2 separate regions of the Homo sapiens genome follow, and region 2 is linked to region 1. Evidence: fine-mapped expression QTL. A gene starts in region 1. The other region holds a variant in brackets. All regions are shown on one strand. Distances are between the middles of the regions. Region 1 holds the start of GABRA3 (gamma-aminobutyric acid type A receptor subunit alpha3). Region 2 overlaps GABRA3 (gamma-aminobutyric acid type A receptor subunit alpha3).

Region 1 (11,935 bases):
GAGGCTCTTTCTAAATATCTTAATGGATTCATGTCAGTCACCCTATTCAAAACCCTTTTCCAAACCTCCCCCCACCGTATTTTACAGTTATGGAAACAGGCTCCAACAAGACAAGTGATATGTCACAACAAACCGAGTATCCAAGTCAGGACTAGGCTATCAGAAATCCCATTTTAAGAGGGATTTTTAATATCAAATTCTTCATATTTTTTATCAAGTGCCTCTTCCTATAAATTGCTGAATAGAGAGAGTTGGAGGACCTGGGAAAGGCACTGGGTCTTTGTGAATTTCAGTTAAGCTACATGACATATAACCTAGTTTTTAAGTAAGTCACTGCTCCTGTGGACATGAGCCTGGAGGGACCCTTCCCTTCCCTTACTATTGAAGCACAGTCATCTGCCAAACATTTGCAAAATGCGTATGCATCATCCAACTGAAGTGTTGGTAGGCACTGTGACCATCAGAGTGGGAAGGACTGTTATAAACCAGATATCATCTATCACTACTCAACTCTGCTGTGAAGTTTAATAATGCTGACCACACCTTTCTTTTTAAAGCGGTACATTTTCCTCTACATATGAATCACAATTTATGACTACATAGTTCAGTGGTCTGTCGAATAATGTCTATCTCACCATCTAAACCATGAGCCCAGGATGGCAACAACTTTGTCTGTTTTGCTCACCATTATATTCTCCATGCCTAGTAAATGTTATGTATGCAAGAAATAAATTAGAAGGTGCCTCTCCTCTCTTGGCACCTTCATAACACTGTACTCTTCTAATTTTCCTTCCATATCCCTGACTTTTTCTCCTTTGTAGCCTTCACATAAGGTTCATTGTTCTCTCCCATATCCTAAAAAAAAAAAAAGCATTCTTCAAAGTACCACCCCTGAATCTCTTTTATTCTATTTCAAGTATTGAGAGGCAATGACTCTCAAATCACTCTCTCCTACTGACTTCTTTCCAGAGTTCCAATCCCATATTTTCAAATGTGCTCAGTACCTTTTACTGGGCTACAACAATATTACTACCTGTGTGGCCTCAGGCAAATCAAGTCCCTCACCCTGTCAAGATGGGTTTGCTCATCCACAAAATGAGGGAGTTGCATCTCCTTTGCATATAAAGTCCTAATTTTCCCATCTAGCATTCAGTATGATTGACAGTCAAGCCCTCCATCTATCTTGCCAAACACATCCCACATAAGTATTTCTGCATACACTTTACTCCAACACAACTAGCCTCTGAATAGAATACCTTTCCCATCCCCCAATTCTGCACACTCAAAGTTTGTCTCATCTTCAAAGCTCATTTCAAATGCCACTTCCAGGAAGGTGTCTTTGATCTCCTTAAAGCCCTTTGCTTCTCTCTTATGGGTGTAGATCTCATCTCCTAATACTATAGTTGTTTGTCTATTTCTTCTCTTTCCTACTTGACTGTGTCATCTTGGAGGGCAGAGGCTATTCTTAAATAATCCTGTATCTCCCACATTATCTTTGGTTCATCATAGGCACTTAGTAACCTTATATTGAATAGATTCCATTTAAGCCATGTCAGTTATCCTGCTCAAAGCCCTTTAATCAGTCCCACTCTTTCTAGAATAAAGACCAACAGCCTTATAATGGCCCACTCCAGCAATCCCTTCAAAATAAAATTGAGATACCAAGTAACCCTCTGAAGTAGTCAAGTTGGCTTTCTATCCACTGTAAGAAATTTTTAAAATGGGATGAATCCTGTTTCCCCAATGCAGAAGAAAGCCCAAATTACCTTTCCTTTATTGAATGTATGGCCCCACAACTAATGTCAAATGGTTCATTCATTTATTTAAAAAACATCTGTTAAGCCTCCTACTCTATGTCATATACTAGGCTAATGGCTAACGGTATAATTAACTGAACTGATACAGCCCTTCACCCACTTGGAATATATAACTGAAAGCGTAATTTGTAGAAACTCTAAGGAAATTAAGAGTTTTAAGAAAAAACAAACATTTTATCTGTCACAACACATGAACAATGCAACTTTGTGTAAATGTTAAATTCTTCATTAAAGGAGATATTTAACTGTAGGGTAAAAGATCATGACAGGTGATTTAGAAATTAAAGCTGGGTCTAATTTGGGCCTCTTAAATTAGATGGGCAGGTAGCCTAGACCAGTGCACTCAAAATGTAGCCCGCCAAATCAGTGCCTGTCTGTGAACTTTTATTACCAGGCAGTAAGGACCAAAGTACAGAAGTCAAGAGTAAGCACTTAGAAAATGTTACAGCAATTTGAAAAAATCATTTTATGTCTGTAGAATCTAATAATACAAATGCGGGCTTATCTTTTGTATGTCTTTTCTTTCATTTTCTAGTAATTCATGGTTAATTTATTTTACTAAATTAACAGTCTTCTGTGATGGATTAGGAAACAAACAAACAAATGACAACAAACATTTTCCTTCACTAGGGGAGTTTGACCAGTACTCTACTAGAGCTTTGCTACTTGAAGTGTGGTCAGTGGAACAGCAGTTTCAGGATCACCTAATAGATTGCTAAAATGCAAAATCCGAGGCCCCTGCCATAGACTCTCTGAATCACAATTCGCATTTTAACAAGATTCCCAGGAGATATTTTTACACATTAAAGTTTGAGAAGCACTGGCCTAACGATTTCCGAAGCCTCTCATAACTCTGAAATCTTATAATTTACTTCAGATAGAGAATTTCAGAGTTGAAAGACCCTCAGAGACACAGTCCATCTCAACATCTTACAGATGGAAAAACTGAGGCACATGGAGGGGAAGTCATATGTCCAAGATAATCAGCAAATCATCTGAGCTAGGAATGGAACCCAAATTTGCTAACAGCCAAGTCAGTGTTCCATTCTAGCAACCACATACTCACCCCTTTCCACCCAGTCCCACTGCATTGTATCCCCTCAGTGATGTAATTATTCCTGAGGTGTTTTCTGATAAAACAATATATTCTTCTACCTTCTGCATACTGTATGAACCTTGAACTACCACTATTTCAAATGTGGTACTTTTCTTCATGAAATTAGAAAATTTCATAATTTTCTTTATGAAAATTCCTGCCACTCAAATCTTCCCACACGCCTATTGTCCGGATGCCATATAGACATCCTGGGGGCTTTAGAAGGACTAGTACTAACCAATTTCTGGTCTTTAGGAATATGAAAGCGACCTTCCTTGCTCCCATCAGTCCAGTTGACACCAGATAGCAAGCTCATCCAAGGAAGAGAATATACACTATCAGGGCTGCTCTAGAAAACTCCGTAGGGTCAATTTGTGGCTAACAAAACAAGTGGGCTATTAGGCCATATTAAGAATAGTCTAATATCCAGCATGAAGTAAATGATAATCCTTTACTCTGTGGTCTTATTGGATCCAAGGGTTAAGAGGGAGGCATGATTGCTGTCTTCAACTAACTGAAGAACTATTATTAAGAAAAAGCAAATTTGTTCCAGATAGTCCCAAAGAACCAACGAATATAAGTTACTGGGAAACAGACTTTGGCTTATGATGGGGAATACTTTCTGACAATCAGAGTTGCTCCATGACACAAAGAGCCACCTAATGCACTCTCTGTCACTGCAGGGAGTTCAACTAGAAATCAGTCAACAAATTGGATGCTTAGGATAAATTCAAGAACTGAGTAGAGAAATAAAGCTTAATGAATGACCTTTTGGGCTCCTTCCAGTTCCAAGGTTTTAGTATTCTAAAATTTTCGGCACAGAACAACTCCAAATGCTCAGGAAATAAGAATGAGGTCTGTTTTTAAAAGGTGCAGTTTGGAGCATGTTGGGTGGATGAGGCTATAAAAAGTGAAGTACGATTTTCAAGGAAAGGAAGCTGACCAATCAAAGTCTTTTGGGCAGCCCCTCCAGAAATCCAGGTGAAGCCCGGCTCCAGGCTGAGTTGCTGTTACTCTACACGAAAGCCAGGCCGCTACTTTCCAAAAAACCTTGCCAAGCCACACTGTACCTATTGTATCTACACTTGCCTAACAGACAAAGGTGCAAAATTCTCCCCAAGAAGGCAGTAGTGCTTCATGGTTAAGACCACGGATTCTGGAACCAGGTTGCCAGTTTAATTTCCAACTGAGACATGTAATTGCTCTGTAATCTTGGATAAGTTACTTAACCTCTCTGTGCCTCAATTTTGTGAGTAAACCAAAGATAATAATAGTGTCTGTTATTCAATGCACTATTCTGCTACAGTAATTTAATGAAGTAATACACACCAAACACTCAGCCCAGAATCCAAAATATACTACATACTCGATAATTTTAGCAATTAGTATTAGGGATGTCAGAATTACTACCACAGGCACAGCAGCGTCACTCACTTAGAAAGCTCCCATCAAACAATTGGATCCCTTCCCCTACCAGTTCTGAAGGGCTATACTACAAGAGCCTCAATCAGTCTTTGCAGAGCTCCAGACAACCAGAACTTGCTGACTCTCAATAAGCCAAACTACTCACGTTAGTAATCCTACCTCATCACCCTGCTTTCCATAAATCCAACAGCCACCCTTCCCCCAGTCCTCTTGCCCATGCCACCCGCAGCCACAGCCACAGCCACAGTCAGAGGAGCAACAAACTGGGAGGCCAGTTGCAGACAAACCATCAGGTGTTTCCTCCCTTCCAAGGACACAGCTGGACTTAACATGATGCCTATGAGTGAGATGGGGTGGGGTATCTCAATCTCTGATCTAGGATGTCAGCTCAATTATCTGGAATTGAGGGTGGGCAGGCAATGGAGCTTCTCGCCGGGAAACAAGGCAAACCTCCCAAGTTTGTGGAGGAAGTCAGGCCCAACCCCACAGTGAGCCCCTCAAAGGAAGGGGGGAGGGCTCAATCTGCTTTAAAGGAAGCAGTTATTTACAACTTTCTACTCACTTGCATGTGGGGGAGGTAATGGGGAGATGGGGAAAGAGGCTGCAAGGTACCCTCCTTCTTTCTTATTTCCAGCAGTGAGAAGCAGCTGCGGAGAAAGAGTTAAAGAAGGGAGAAAGCTCCAGCCATTACTACATCCCTGGTGCCTAGAGCTGTCTGGGGGGTCATGACAGTGCTGTCTGCTTTGGCTAGGGGCCACTCCGTGGCTTTCTGCAGCAGCTGCTGGGGCCCCCCAAGCAATTTGCAAGGTCAGTGCTGACCTGCTTCCAAAGAGGAACAAAACAATTCACTGACAATGAAGCAAATCACGCATATACCACATCGCAACCCCCCTTCCTCAAATCGGGTTTTACCCCAGTGTCTCCCTGCTCAGATGCCGCCTCTGGGCTTCCACCAGCCCCACTGGGGAACCCAGGATAGCATCACAGCTGCAGAGCATGCCTCGCCTCCCGGCCAACCCAAGGAGACTCTCAGTACGGGGGAGAGATGCTATCGCTAAAGGAGACCTGAGCTTGGGGGAGGGGGAAGAAGGAACATCAATGTTTCTTACCGAGCTCTACAGTCTGAGCGGAAAGGAGAGAAGGATGAATGAACTGAAACAAGTTGGAGGTTGAGCCCTGACAGAGCTCGGCTTCTGGCTTCTTCTTCTCTCTCTGGGTCTCTCTCCTGGTCCCTCTCTCGGTCTGTCTCTCTGGTTTGCTCGCTAGCTTGCGCGCGCTCACGCTCTCTCGCTCTCTCTCTCTCTCTCTCTCTCTCTCTCTCTCTCTCTCAATCTGCCTCCCTCCCTCTCTGTCAGTTTCTCCCTCCCCTCCTCCCCTCCCCTTCTCCCCTCCCCCTTTGCTGGCTTTAGGTTCACCACTGGTGCTTAGCACGCGGCTGTGCTGGGGCTCTGAATACAGTACTGCAAGGCTTTAGATGTGGTTGTTTTACGAAATACTAAAGTAGTATTTTATTCCTTAAGGCATCCAACAGAGAAATAGAGGGAAGCCCAGAGAGAAAGGGAGGAGCAGAGGCAGCAAAGGGAAGAGAAAGAGAGCAAAAGGGTATGAGCGAATAGGAGGATAAAGGAAGTATGGGTTACTGTAGCTGATGTGTGATGCTTACTTGCTGCTCCGAGACTGAAGAGTGAGCTTCCTCCTTTTTCCCTCTGTCTCCCTTATATCCTTATGGGCGTGCCTTCTAACCCAGGCTGCAAATAAAGGTTTGACAATCCTGTCTGTTCAGATTCCATCTCTGGGGACAATAATGAGCTAGAAAAATGTACATCAAAGGGGTTGTCATTCATACTCCACTAAGAAGAAAGAGTTCCGCCACATTGATCCCCTGTTGACCTAACTTCCACCCCCACCCTCAACCAAGTAGAAGTGCAGACCCAATTCAAAACTATCAGTTCTAGCTTCCCTGTAGGTAAGACAGACAAGCAGCAGAACCACAATGCTTTCTTTTCAAAAATTCCAAAGGGAATATAGATGTATGTAATTGTGTGAGCCTATACATGAGTTGCACAAGGACTAAGGTGGGGAGAAGGATAATTATTGACTCAAAGTATAAAAGAACTATATTCCCATTGGGTCAAAAGAAAAAAAGCAACCTAGGCAAAGCACAGTAACAATGCAGCATAGAGTGGAAAAAGACCTAGGCTAAAAATAAAATAAAGGAACTTGAGTTTGAGTTCTGCCTCTGAAAATTGCTGTGTTGCTTTCAACGAGTTCTTCAATCTGGCCCTCAATATCCTCAGTGACCAAATGAATGGTAATGGAAATAGATGATCTTAAAAGACCCTTCCAGAACTAACAGTCTAGGAATCTAAAGACAGGAAAATTCCAGGTAAAGGAGAAGTTGGCCCTTAGAAAATAAAAACTAAACTGCCACATTTCAAAAGTTCTCCAAAGGTGAGTCCCCAAATGCGACTCCAAATCACATTGATTCAACATTCCATCTTTTGTGTTTCAGGGATAATACCAATATAAGCACGTGAATAAAGAGCTGTTCCTATCAAAGAATTCAGCATCTGCTTACATATAATGATTAGTATAAAAGTTTTCTTAGTCAAACTCTTCATATTGTGATTTCTAGTCCTGTTAGAAAAATTCAGAGGGCATCTAATTGAAAGTGAGTTATATAGTGTGTTTAAGTATACTAGTGTCAATATACATACAGTGACTGGGACATAATAGGCATTTACAATGTTGCCCATAGTGTGCCATTTCTCTTTAAACTACCATCCTGTTGGTTTTTTTCCCCCAAATTTCTAATGCTCTCTACTCCTGCCAAATGAAGTACATGTGCTACACTCCTATACATCTTCAAAAGCATGTGTCCATACATTGAGTAGAAGATAGATAGGTACTCGTAAGCTTAGAGTCACTGAGCTAAAGGGACCCATAAAGATAACCATGTCATTGTACAGAAAAAGAAACTAGACTAAATAGAAAATATAATTCACACAAGGTCATAGTGAGTCAGTGGCAGAATCAAGGCCAGTACTCAGATTGCTGACTGCAGGTACAGTATTTTTCTCTACAAAATTAACATGTAACTTGCACATAAAGCAAGTGTGTATGTGAGCATAAAGCTATAAATACTTTTTCCTGCATAGGTACCCATTTTCATGTGTAGATTTGTTTGCATAAATGTCCATTGGATTTAATAGATTAGTATACTGGCAAAAAGAAATATTAAGGTTGCTGTATTAGTTTTCTAGGGCTGCCATAACAAATTACCATAAATTCAGTAGCTTAAAACAACAGAAATTTATTGTCTCACAGTTCTGAAGGTCAGAAGTCTAAAATCGAGATGCTGGCAGGGTCAAACTACTCCAAAAGTTCTAGAGAATGATTTCTTGTCTCTTCCAGCTTCTGGTGGTTTCCAGTGTTCCTTGGCTTATCACTGAATCTCTGCCTCGGTCTTCAAATGGTCTTCTCCTCTGATTTCTGTGTGCCCAAATCTCCCTCTTTTTTCTTATAAAGACACCAGTCATTGGATTTAAGGCCCAACCTAAATCCGGAATGATTTCATCTCAAGATCTTTAACTACTTCCTTTTGCAAATACCATACCATTGAAATGAGGTCACACCCTGAGGTTATAGACGAACATGAATTTTGGGGGACACTATTCAGTCTACTACAATTGAAAACTTTTCATCTAATAAAGATACCAAACAAACAAATAAACCATCTGGGTGCCACCATTTATTTTAAAGAAAAGATATTTTAATATAAATAAGTTGGATTAAGACACTCTCTGAACAAAAAAACTCTTCTCTGAATCATACAATTATACCTGTATGAAAACTTCACAGCATTTTCATAATTTTCCCACTTGACTGCAAACCAAAAACAAACAAACAACAACAACAACAAAAAAAACAGAATCCTTTATTAGGAAAACTTCTGGCAATGGTGAAGAAGCTTCTATCAGACCAACCCTGATGCAGATAACAATAATAAACAGTGGACCAAATATATAATAAAACAATTTAAATGCACAGGAAAGCAACCCATAAACAGGCAAAAATTGAAAGGGAATTAATAATTGAAAGGAGGGAACAATACTAAGTGAGTTTTTCCTTTTCTGGAAATTTTTGTCTGATGGCAGCCCCCAGGCCAAAGCAGTGAATAAACTCTAGAGAAACTAGAATCAATGTTGCAACTGTTAAATGTTTAACAACTGGATCTTGAGGAAAATTAATAAAAAACAAATTCATAGTATTTGCCAATTTCAATGGTGTAAATACTTCTACCACGGACCATTCCATGAACATGGAGTTGAATAGAGATATGCACAGTAGGCATTCACAAACCAGTGTTAGCCAGCTCCCACACACAACTGCTCACAGTCCAAGTGTCTGAAAGAACCAGACGGCAGAATTCAGGATGACCACGGTAGTTGAAAAGCCATGAGAGAAATTCAATAATTTAAAAAACTAGGGAGAGGAAGCCCCAAATTCTGTGTATAAACTACCCAGCTGTCTGGTGAAACCATGAAATATTTATGTGGGAACAGATTCCAAAAAGCCTAAATAAAGCTGAAAGAATTAAACAGAGTTTTCAGTGCTGCCAATGAGGGAGAGTTTGGAGTTTCACTTCAGCCCCATTAACTGTCTACTAAAACAAACAAAATCAATGCTCTAGAGAAAAAAATAAAGGTATCCTACAATATATAATTCACTATTTTCAGGGTACACTCAAAAATTACTACCAAAGCAAAGATATAGGAAAATATTACTCATATCCAAGGAAAAAATAATAATAGAGACCAGCCCTAAGGTAAACCAGATGTTTGAATTAGGAGAAAGAATTTTAAATCACATATCATAATTACACTAAGGGAAATAAAGAAAAACACATGTGTAATAAATGAACAAATAGGAAGTCAGAATATCTGAAGTAAAATTCAGTGAGTTGGTGTTTAATGGCAGGTTGAAAATGGCAGAAGAAAGAGTAGTTTCACTGGAAGAAAAATCTAGTGATATTATCTAATCTGAAGTACAGATTAGAGAGAGAAAGATTGAAGAGGATGAGCAGAGTGTTAGAAATACATAGGATAATATCAAAGTTATAAACATAATTGGAGTCCCAGATGGCAAACAATAAGAGAAGAGGAAGAAAAAACATTTGAAACAAAAGCCTAACCACAAGACAATATCCCTGATAATTATTGATGGAAAAATCCTCAACAAAACATTAGCAAACCAAATTCAGCAATACACTAAAAAGATCATTCATCATGACCAAGTGGGATTTATCCCTGGGATGCAAGGATGGTTCAACATACACAAATCAATCAAAGGGATACATCATATCAACAGAATGAAGAACAAAAATCATATGATCATTTCAATAGATGCTGAGAAAACATTTGATAAAATTCAACATCCCTTCATGACAAAAATCTTAAAAACTGGGTGTAGAAGGAACATACCTCAACATAATAAAAACCATATACAGCAGACCCACAGCTAATATGATACTGAATGGGGAAAAACTGAAAGCCTTTCCTCTAAGATCTGGGACACAACAAGGATGCTCACATTCACCACTGTTATTCAACATAGTACTGGATGACTTAGCTAGAGCAATCAGACAAAAGAAAGATATAAAGGGCATCCACATTGGAAAGGAGGAAGTCAAATTATCTTTCCTTGCAGACATGATCTTATATTTGGAAAAACCTAAAGACTCCACAAGCACAGGAAATCAAAGCAAAAATGGACAAATGGGATCACATCAAATTACAAAGCTTTTGCCCAGAAAAGGAAGCAATCAATAATGTGAAAGGACAACCCACAGAATGGGAGAAAATATTTGTAAACTACCCATCTGATAAGGGATTAGTAACTAGAATATATAAGGAGCTAACACAACTCTATAGAAAAAAATCTAAAAATCTGATTCAAAAATGGGCAAAAAAAAACTGGATAGACTTTTCTCACAATAAAACATACAAATGGCAAACAGGCATATGAAAAGGTGCAGAACAACACTAGTCATCAGGGAAATGCAAATCAAAACTACAATGAGATACAATCTCACCTCAGTTAAAATGGCCTATATCCAAAGGATAGGCAATAACAAATGCAGGCAAGGATGTGGAGAAAAGGGAATCTTTGTACACTGTTGGTGGGAATGTAAATTAGTACAACCACTATGGAAAACGGTTTGGAGGTTCCTCAAAAAACTAAAAATACAGCTACCTCATATGGTATCCAGCAATCTCACTGCTAGGTTTATACCCAAAAGGAAGGATATCAGTATATCAAAGAGATATCTTCACTCCCTGGTACTGCAGCACTATTCACAGTAGCATAGATTTAGAAGGTACCTAAGTGTTCATCAGCAAATGAATAGATAAAGAAAATGTGGTACATATACACAATGGAATACTATTCAGGCATAAAAAAGAATGAGATCCTGTAATTTGCAAAAACATGGATTAAACTGGAGGTCATTGTGTTAAGTGAAATAAGCCAGGCACAGAAGATAAACTTTGCATATTCTCACTTATTTGTGGGAGCTGAAAATCAAAGAATTGAACCCATGGAGATACAGTGTAGAAGGATGATTACCAGAGGCTGGGAAGGGTAGTGGGGAGGGATGGTTAATGGGTAGAAAAAATAGAATGAATGAATAAGGCCTAGTATATAATAGCACAACAGGGAGGCTATAATCAATAACAATTTAATTATACATCTAGAAATGACTAAAATAGTATAATCGGATTATTTGTGAGACAAAGGATAAATGCTTGAGGGGATGAATACCTCATTTTGTATGATATGATTATTATGCATTGCATGCCTGTATCAAAACATCTCATGTACCCATAAATATACCTACTACATACCCACAAAAATAAAAATTATTTTAAAAAGAATGGCTGTATATTTGCAAATATGATGAAAAACCATCAAATTGAATATATTAAATATGTGCAGGTTTGTGTATATCAACTATAACTCAATAAAGCTGTTTGAAAAAAAAACAAATATAATAAAACACATACATTTACAGATTCAACAAGCTCAATAAATTCCAAGCAGGATACCACACTCAGGCATATCATAGTCAAACTATTGAAAAACAAATTTAAATAGAAAACTTTGAAAGCATTAGGGAGAAAAAATGCCTACTGAGGAACAGAATAAAACTGACCTGTGACCTTTCTTTCTTTCTTTCTTTTTTCTGAGACGGAGTCTCGCTCTGTCTCCCAGGCTGGAGTGCAGTGGCGCCATCTTGGCTCATTGTGCAATCTCCGCCTCCCGGGTTCACGCCATTCTCCCGCCTCAGCCTCCAGAGTAGCTGGGACTACAGGCGCCCGCCACCACGCCCGGTTAGTTTTTTGTATTTTTAGTAGAGACGGGGCTTCACCGTGTTAGCCAGGATGGTCTCAGTCTCCTGACTTCGTGATCCGCCCGTCTCGGCCTTCCAAAGTGCAGGGATTACAGGCGTGAGCCACCGCACCCGGCCAACCTGTGACCTTTCATAAGAAAAAAAGACATCTTTAAAGTGCTGAATTTTTTAAAAACTCTATCAATA
Region 2 (8,000 bases), 210 kb before region 1:
CAATGGTTGAACTAGTTTACAGTCCCACCAACAGTGTAAAAGTGTTCCTATTTCTCCACATCTTGTCCAGCACCTGTTGTTTCCTGACTTTTTAATGATTGCCATTCTAACTGGTGTGAGATGGTATCTCATTGTGGTTTTGATTTGCATTTCTCTGATGGCCAGTGATGATGAGCATTTTTTCATGTGTTTTTTGGCTGCATAAATGTCTTCTTTTGAGAAGTGTCTGTTCATGTCTTTCGCCCACTTTTTGATGGGGTTGTTTGTTTTTTTCTTGTAAATTTGTTTGAGTTCATTGTAGATTCTGGATATTAGCCCTTTGTCAGATGAGTAGGTTGCGAAAATTTTCTCCCATTTTGTAGGTTGCCTGTTCACTCTGATGGTAGTTTCTTTAGTTGTGCAGAAGCTCTTTAGTTTAATTAGATCCCATTTGTCAATTTTGGCTTTTGTTGCCATTGCTTTTGGTGTTTTGGACATGAAGTCCTTGCCCATGCCTATGTCCTGAATGGTATTGCCTAGGTTTTCTTCTAGGGTTTTTATGGTTTTAGGTCTAACGTTTAAATCTCTAATCCATCTTGAATTGATTTTTGTCTAAGGTGTAAGGAAGGGATCCAGTTTCAGCTTTCTCCATATGGCTAGCCAGTTTTCCCAGCACCATTTATTAAATAGGGAATCCTTTCCCCATTTCTTGTTTTTCTCAGGTTTGTCAAAGATCAGATAGTTGTAGATATGTGGTGTTATTTCTGAGGGCTCTGTTCTGTTCCATTGATCTATATCTCTGTTTTGGTACCAGTACCATGCTGTTTTGGTTACTGTAGCCTTGTAGTATAGTTTGAAGTCAGGTAGTGTCATGCCTCCAGCTTTGTTCTTTTGGCTTAGGATTGACTTGGCAATGCGGGCTCTTTTTTGGTTCCATATGAACTTTAAAGTAGTTTTTTCCAATTCTGTGAAGAAAGTCATTGGTAGCTTGATGGGGATGGCATTGAATCTGTAAATTACCTTGGGCAGTATGGCCATTTTCACGATATTGATTCTTCCTACCCATGAGCATGGAATATTCTTCCATTTGTATCCTCTTTTATTTCCTTGAGCAGTGGTTTGTGGTTCTCCTTGAAGAGGTCCTTCACATCCCTTGTAAGTTGGATTCCTAGGTATTTTATTCTCTTTGAAGCAATTGTGAATGGGAGTTCACTCATGATTTGGTTCTCTGTTTGTCTGTTGTTGGTGTATAAGAATGCTTGTGATTTTTGTACATTGATTTTGTATCCTGAGACTTTGCTGAAGTTGCTTATCAGCTTAAGGATATTTTGGGCTGAGACAATGGGGTTTTCTAGATATACAATCATGTCATCTGCAAACAGGGACAATTTGACTCCCTCTTTTCCTACTTGAATACCCTTTATTTCCTTCTCCTGCCTGATTGCCCTGGCCAGAACTTCCAACACTATGTTGAATAGGAGTGGTGAGAGAGGGCATCCCTGTCTTGTGCCAGTTTTCAAAGGGAATGCTTCCAGTTTTTGCCTATTCAGTATGATATTGGCTGTGGGTTTGTCATAGATAGCTCTTATTATTTTGAAATACATCCCATCAATACCTAATTTATTGAGAGTTTTTATCATGAAGGGTTGTTGAATTTTGTCAAAGGCTTTTTCTGCATCTATTGAGATAATCATGTGGTTTTTGTCTTTGGCTCTGTTTATATGCTGGATTACATTTATTGATTTGTGTATATTGAACCAGCCTTGCATCCCAGGGATGAAGCCCACTTGATCATGGTGGATAAGCTTTTTGATGTGCTGCTGGATTCGTTTTGCCAGTATTTTATTGAGGATTTTTGCATCATTGTTCATCAAGGATATTGGTCTAAAATTCTCTTTTTTGGTTGTGTCTCTGCCCGGCTTTGGTATCAGAATGATGCTGGCCTCATAAAATGAGTTAGGGAGGATTCACTCTTTTTCTATTGATTGGAATAGTTTCAGAAGGAATGGTACCAGTTCCTCCTTGTACCTCTGGTAGAATTCAGCTGTGAATCCATCTGGTCCTGGACTCTTTTTGGTTGGTAAACTATTGATTATTGCAACAATTTCAGCTCCTGTTATTGGTCTATTCAGAGATTCAACTTCTTCCTGGTTTAGTCTTGGGAGAGTGTATGTGTCGAGGAATTTATCCATTTCTTCTAGATTTTCTAGTTTATTTGCATAGAGGTGTTTGTAGTATTCTCTGATGGTAGTTTGTATTTCTGTGGGATCAGTGGTGATATCCCCTTTATCATTTTTTATTGTGTCTATTTGATTCTTCTCTCTTTTTTTCTTCATTAGCCTTGCTAGTGGTCTATCAATTTTGTTGATCCTTTCAAAAAACCAGCTCCTGGATTCATTGATTTTTTGAAGGGTTTCTTGTGTCTCTATTTCCTTCAGTTCTGCTCTGATTTTAGTTATTTCTTGCCTTCTGCTAGCTGTTGAATGTGTTTGCTCTTGCTTTTCTAGTTCTTTTAATTGTGATGTTAGGGTGTCAATTTTGGATCTTTCCTGCTTTCTCTTGTGGGCATTTAGTGCTATAAATTTCCCTCTACACACTGCTTTGAATGCGTCCCAGAGATTCTGGTATGTTGTGTCTTTGTTCTCGTTGGTTTCAAAGAACATCTTTATTTCTGCCTTCATTTCGTTATGTACCCAGTAGTCATTCAGGAGCAGGTTGTTCAGTTTCCATGTAGTTGAGAGGCTTTGAGTGAGATTCTTAATACTGAGTTCTAGTTTGATTGCACTGTGGTCTGAGAGATAGTTTGTTATCATTTCTGTTCTTTTACATTTGCTGAGGAGAGCTTTTCTTCCAACTATGTGGTCAATTTTGGAATAGGTGTGGTGTGGTGCTGAAAAAAATGTATATTCTGTTGATTTGGGGTGGAGAGTTCTGTAGATGTCTATTAGGTCCACTTGGTGCAGAGCTGAGTTCAATTCCTGGGTATCCTTGTTGACTTTCTGTCTCGTTGATCTGTCTAATGTTGACAGTGGGGTGTTAAAGTCTCCCATTATTATTGTGTGGGAGTCTAAGTCTCTTTGTAGGTCACTCAGGACTTGCTTTATGAATCTGGGTGCTCCTGTATTGGGTGCATATATATTTAGGATAGTTAGCTCTTCTTGTTGAATTGATCCCTTTACCATTATGTAATGGCCTTCTTTGTCTCTTTTGATCTTTGTTGGTTTCAAGTCTGTTTTATCAGAGACGAGGATTGCAACCCCTGCCTTTTTTTGTTTTCCATTAGCTTGGTAGATCTTCCTCCATCCTTTTATTTTGAGCCTATGTGTGTCTCTGCACGTGAGATGGGTTTGCTGAATACAGCACACTGATGGGTCTTGACTCTTTATCCAATTTGCCAGTCTGTGTCTTT[T/A]AATTGGAGAATTTAGTCCATTTACATTTAAAGTTAATATTGTTATGTGTGAATTTGATCCTGTCATTATGATGTTAGCTGGTGATTTTGCTCGTTAGTTGATGCAGTTTCTTCCTAGTCTCGATGGTCTTTACATTTTGGCATGATTTTGCAGCAGCTGGTACCGGTTGTTCCTTTCCATGTTTAGCGCTTCCTTCAGGAGCACTTTTAGGGCAGGCCTGGTGGTGACAAAATCTCTCAGCATTGGCTTGTCTGTGAAGTATTTTATTTCTCCTTCACTTATGAAGCTTAGTTTGGCTGGATATGAAATTCTGGTTTGAAAATTCTTTTCTTTAAGAACGTTGAATATTGGCCCCCACTCTCTTCTGGCTTGTAGGGTTTCTGCTGAGAGATCCGCTGTTAGTCTGATGGGCTTCCCTTTGAGGGTAACCCGACCTTTCTCTCTGGCTGCCCTTAACATTTTTTCCTTCATTTCAACTTTGGTGAATCTGACAATTATGTGTCTTGGAGTTGCTCTTCTCGAGGAGTATCTTTGTGGTGTTCTCTGTATTTCCTGAATCTGAACGTTGGCCTGCCTTGCTAGATTGGGGAAGTTCTCCTGGATAATATCCTGCAGAGTGTTTTCCAACTTGGTTCCATTCTCCCCATCACTTTCAGGTACATCAATCAGACGTAGATTTGGTCTTTTCACATAGTCCCATATTTCTTGGAGGCTTTGCTCATATCTTTTTATTCTTTTTTCTCTAAACTTCCCTTCTCGCTTCATTTCATTCATTTCATCTTCCATTACTGATACCCTTTCTTCCAGTTGATCGCATCGGCTCCTGAGGCTTCTGCATTCTTCACGTAGTTCTCGAGCCTTGGTTTTCAGCTCCATCAGCTCCTTTAAGTACTTCTCTGTATTGGTTATTCTAGTTATACATTCTTCTAAATTTTTTTCAAAGTTTTCAACTTCTTTGCCTTTGGTTTGAATGTCCTCCCGTAGCTCAGAGTAATTTGATCGTCTGAAGCCTTCTTCTCTCAGCTCGTCAAAGTCATTCTCCATCCAGCTTTGTTCCGTTGCTGGTGAGGAACTGCGTTCCTTTGGAGGAGGAGAAGAGGCGCTCTGCGTTTTAGAGTTTCCAGTTTTTCTGTTCTGTTTTTTCCCCATCTTTGTGGTTTTATCTACTTTTGGTCTTTGATGATGGTGATGTACAGATGGGTTTTCGGTGTGGATGTCCTTTCTGTTTGTTAGTTTTCCTTCTAACAGACAGGACCCTCAGCTGCAGGTCTGTTGGAATACCCTGCAGTGTGAGGTGTCAGTGTGCCCCTGCTGGGGGGTGCCTCCCAGTTAGGCTGCTCAGGGGTCAGGGGTCAGGGGTCAGGGACCCACTTGAGGAGGCAGTCTGCCGGTTCTCAGATCTCCAGCTGCGTGCTGGGAGAACCACTGCTCTCTTCAAAGCTGTCAGACAGGGACACTTAAGTCTGCAGAGGTTACTGCTGTCTTTTTGTTTCTCTGTGCCCTGCCCCCAGAGGTGGAGCCTACAGAGGCAGGCAGGCCTCCTTGAGCTGTGGTGGGCTCCACCCAGTTCGAGCTTCCCGGCTGCTTTGTTTACCTAAGCAAGCCTGGGCAATGGCGGGCGCCCCTCCCCCAGCCTCGCTGCTGCTTTGCAGTTTGATCTCAGACTGCTGTGCTAGCAATCAGCGAGATTCCGTGGGCGTAGGACCCTCTGAGCCAGGTGTGGGATATAGTCTCGTGGTGCGCCGTTTCTTAAGCCGGTCTGAAAAGCGCAATATTCGGGTGGGAGTGACCCGATTTTCCAGGTGCGTCCGTCACCCCTTTCTTGGACTCAGAAAGGGAACTCCCTGACCCCTTGCTCTTCCCAAGTGAGGCAATGCCTCGCCCTGCTTGGGCTCGCACACGGTGCGCGCACCCACTGGCCTGCACCCACTGTCTGGCACTCCCTAGTTAGATAAACCCGGTACCTCAGATGGAAATGCAGAAATCACCCGTCTTCTGCGTCGCTCACGCTGGGAGCTGTAGACCGGAGCTGTTCCTATTCGGCCATCTTGGCTCCTCCTATTTGATTTCTATAGTACTCAAAACAGCATGGTACTAACAAAAAAACAAACACATAGACCAATGGAACAGAATAGAGAGCCCAGAAATAGATCTGCACATTTACAGTCAATTGGTTTTCATAAAAGATGCCAAGGACACACTATGGGGGAAAGAACAGTCTCTTCAATAAATGGTGTTGGGAAAACAGGATATCCACATACAGAAGAATGAAATTGGACCCCATTTACACCATACTCAAAAGTCAACTCAATATATTTTGAGTTGAAACTATAAAACTAGTAGAAGAAAACAGAGAGAGAAAGCTCAACAGCACTGGCCTGGGCAATGATATTTTTTGCAAATGACCCCAAAAGCATAGGCAACAAAAGCAGAAATAGCCAAATGGCATTACATCAACCTAAAAAGCTTCTGCACATCCAAGGAAACAGTTAACACAGTGAAGAGATAACCTATGGAACGGGAGAAAATATTGCATACTATATATCAAATAAAGGGTTAATATTCAAAATACATAAGGAACTCAAACAACAATAGCAAGAAAACAAATAGCCCAATTTTTAATATAGGCAAAGGATCTGAATAAATGTTTGTCTTAGATGTATGAAAAGAGGCTCAACTTCATAAATAATCAGAGAAATTCAAATCAAAACCACAATCAGATATTACCTCACACCTGTTAGGATGGCTACTATCAAAAAGATAAAAGATAGGTGTTGGCGAGAATGTGGAGAAAAGAGAACTCTTTCATACGGCCATTATAAAAAACAGTATGGAGGTTCCTCAAAAATTAAAAATAGAAATACCATATAACCCAGCAATCCCACTACTGTGTGTACATGCATCCAAAGGAAATGAAATCAGTATGTTGAAGAAATATCTGCATTTTCATGTTTATTTCAGCATTATTCACAATAGCCAAGATACGGAATCAATTTAAGCATTCATTGGTGGATAAATGGATAAAAAGATGTGGTATATATACACAATAAAATACTACCTGGCCTTAGAAGAAAAGGAAATCCTGCCACTTGCGACAACATGGAGGACATTATCTTAAGCAAAATAAGCCACACTCAGAAAGACAAATACTCTACAATCTCATTTATATGTGGAGTGTATAAAAGTTGGACTCATAGAAAGAGAGTAGAATGGTGGCCAGGAAGTGGGAGGATTGAGGAGATGTTGGTCAAAGAATATAAAATTTCAGTTACACAGGAAAAATAAATTCAAGAGATCTATTGTACAACATGGTGAGTATAGTTAATAACAGTGTTTTATATATTTAAAAATCGCTGAGAGCAGAATTTACGTGTTCTCAGCACAAAAATTGAGATGTGAGGTAATGCATATGAAAATTAGCTTGATTTAGCTATTCCCCAATGCATAAATATATCAAGACATTCTGTTGTACACCATAAATACATATTATTTTTATTTATTTATTATAAACAGAGCATGGATTCCAAAGCCAGACTGCCAGATTTAAAACCCAGGTCCACCATGAACCCAGCTTGTAGTAGTAGCTATGTGTAAGTTACTTCAGTTCTCTGTGTCTTGTTAGCTAACACCTTGCAGATGCTAATTGAAGCCCTAAGACTAGATGATACTACAAAAGGAGTGATGTATCTAGGGAAGACAAGAAGTCTAACGACTGAGATTCAGCATACTGGGTTCATGTCTTTCCACTGACTCTCCACACATCTCAGGCAGAAGGTATATGTATCAGAATCTTGAAGGAGGGAGGGGAAATGAAGCAAGCAGTAAACCATAAACTGCATATGGTCATTTGAAACATTTGGTCCAGCAATTATGCTATGCCATCTCATTGGGTTCAAAATCCCTGCTATTGACTAAAAGTCACAGGGTAAATAATTTCTTTCTATACCTTTGGAATAGAGACAAATTAGTGACTTGGCTATTTGGTGCCCTTATCTCATCTTTATTGGAAATACCTAAGTACATTTTCAAAACAAGCAAACATATCAGAGATTATTCTTACTGTATGATTTGCTGATTTTTAACATTTTATTATACCATTGATACAAAAGCCAGTATTTACTTTGCATTTATTATACAGTGCTTTGCATATTAAGGATATTTTTGCTGGTACATATGTCTTGTCTCCTGAACTAGATTGAATACCACATGTAAGTCATTTGCTTTTTGATGGAAATCCATGCAACACACTAACCCAATGAGTAAATTTTCCAACTCAGAAACTGTTACATCCATGTCTTCAGTGCCTGCTGTGGTCTGAATGTTTGTGTCCCCCTGAAATTAAAATGTTGAAATATTAATATAACCACTAATGTGATAGTATTAAGTGATAGGGCATTAGAGAAGTGATTAGGTCAGGAGGGCTCTGTCCTCTTGAATGGGGTTACTGGCCCTATAAAAGTGACCTAAAGGAAAATGTTAGTCTCTTCTGCCATGTGAGGACACAGCAAAAAGTTGCCATATTTGAAGCAGAGAGGTAGCCTTTAGACACTGAATGTACTGGAGCCTTGATCTTGGCCTTCCTGACCTCAAGAACAGTGAGAAATAAGTTCT

What was found.
Region 2: its variant is fine-mapped to the expression of GABRA3 in esophagus mucosa (GTEx, PIP 0.99).

The regions. Positions count from the first base shown.
Region 1 is chrX:152,445,699-152,457,633 of GRCh38, forward strand. GABRA3 (gamma-aminobutyric acid type A receptor subunit alpha3) reads right to left here and starts at 5,617. Exons shown (of 10, transcript NM_000808.4): 1 at 5,448-5,617.
Region 2 is chrX:152,236,581-152,244,580 of GRCh38, forward strand. The region is part of intron 5 of GABRA3 (gamma-aminobutyric acid type A receptor subunit alpha3); the gene reads right to left. Among named protein-coding and RNA genes, the nearest start is that of MAGEA10, 100 kb to the left of the region's middle. The variant T/A (reference allele first, on the strand shown) is at 3,389.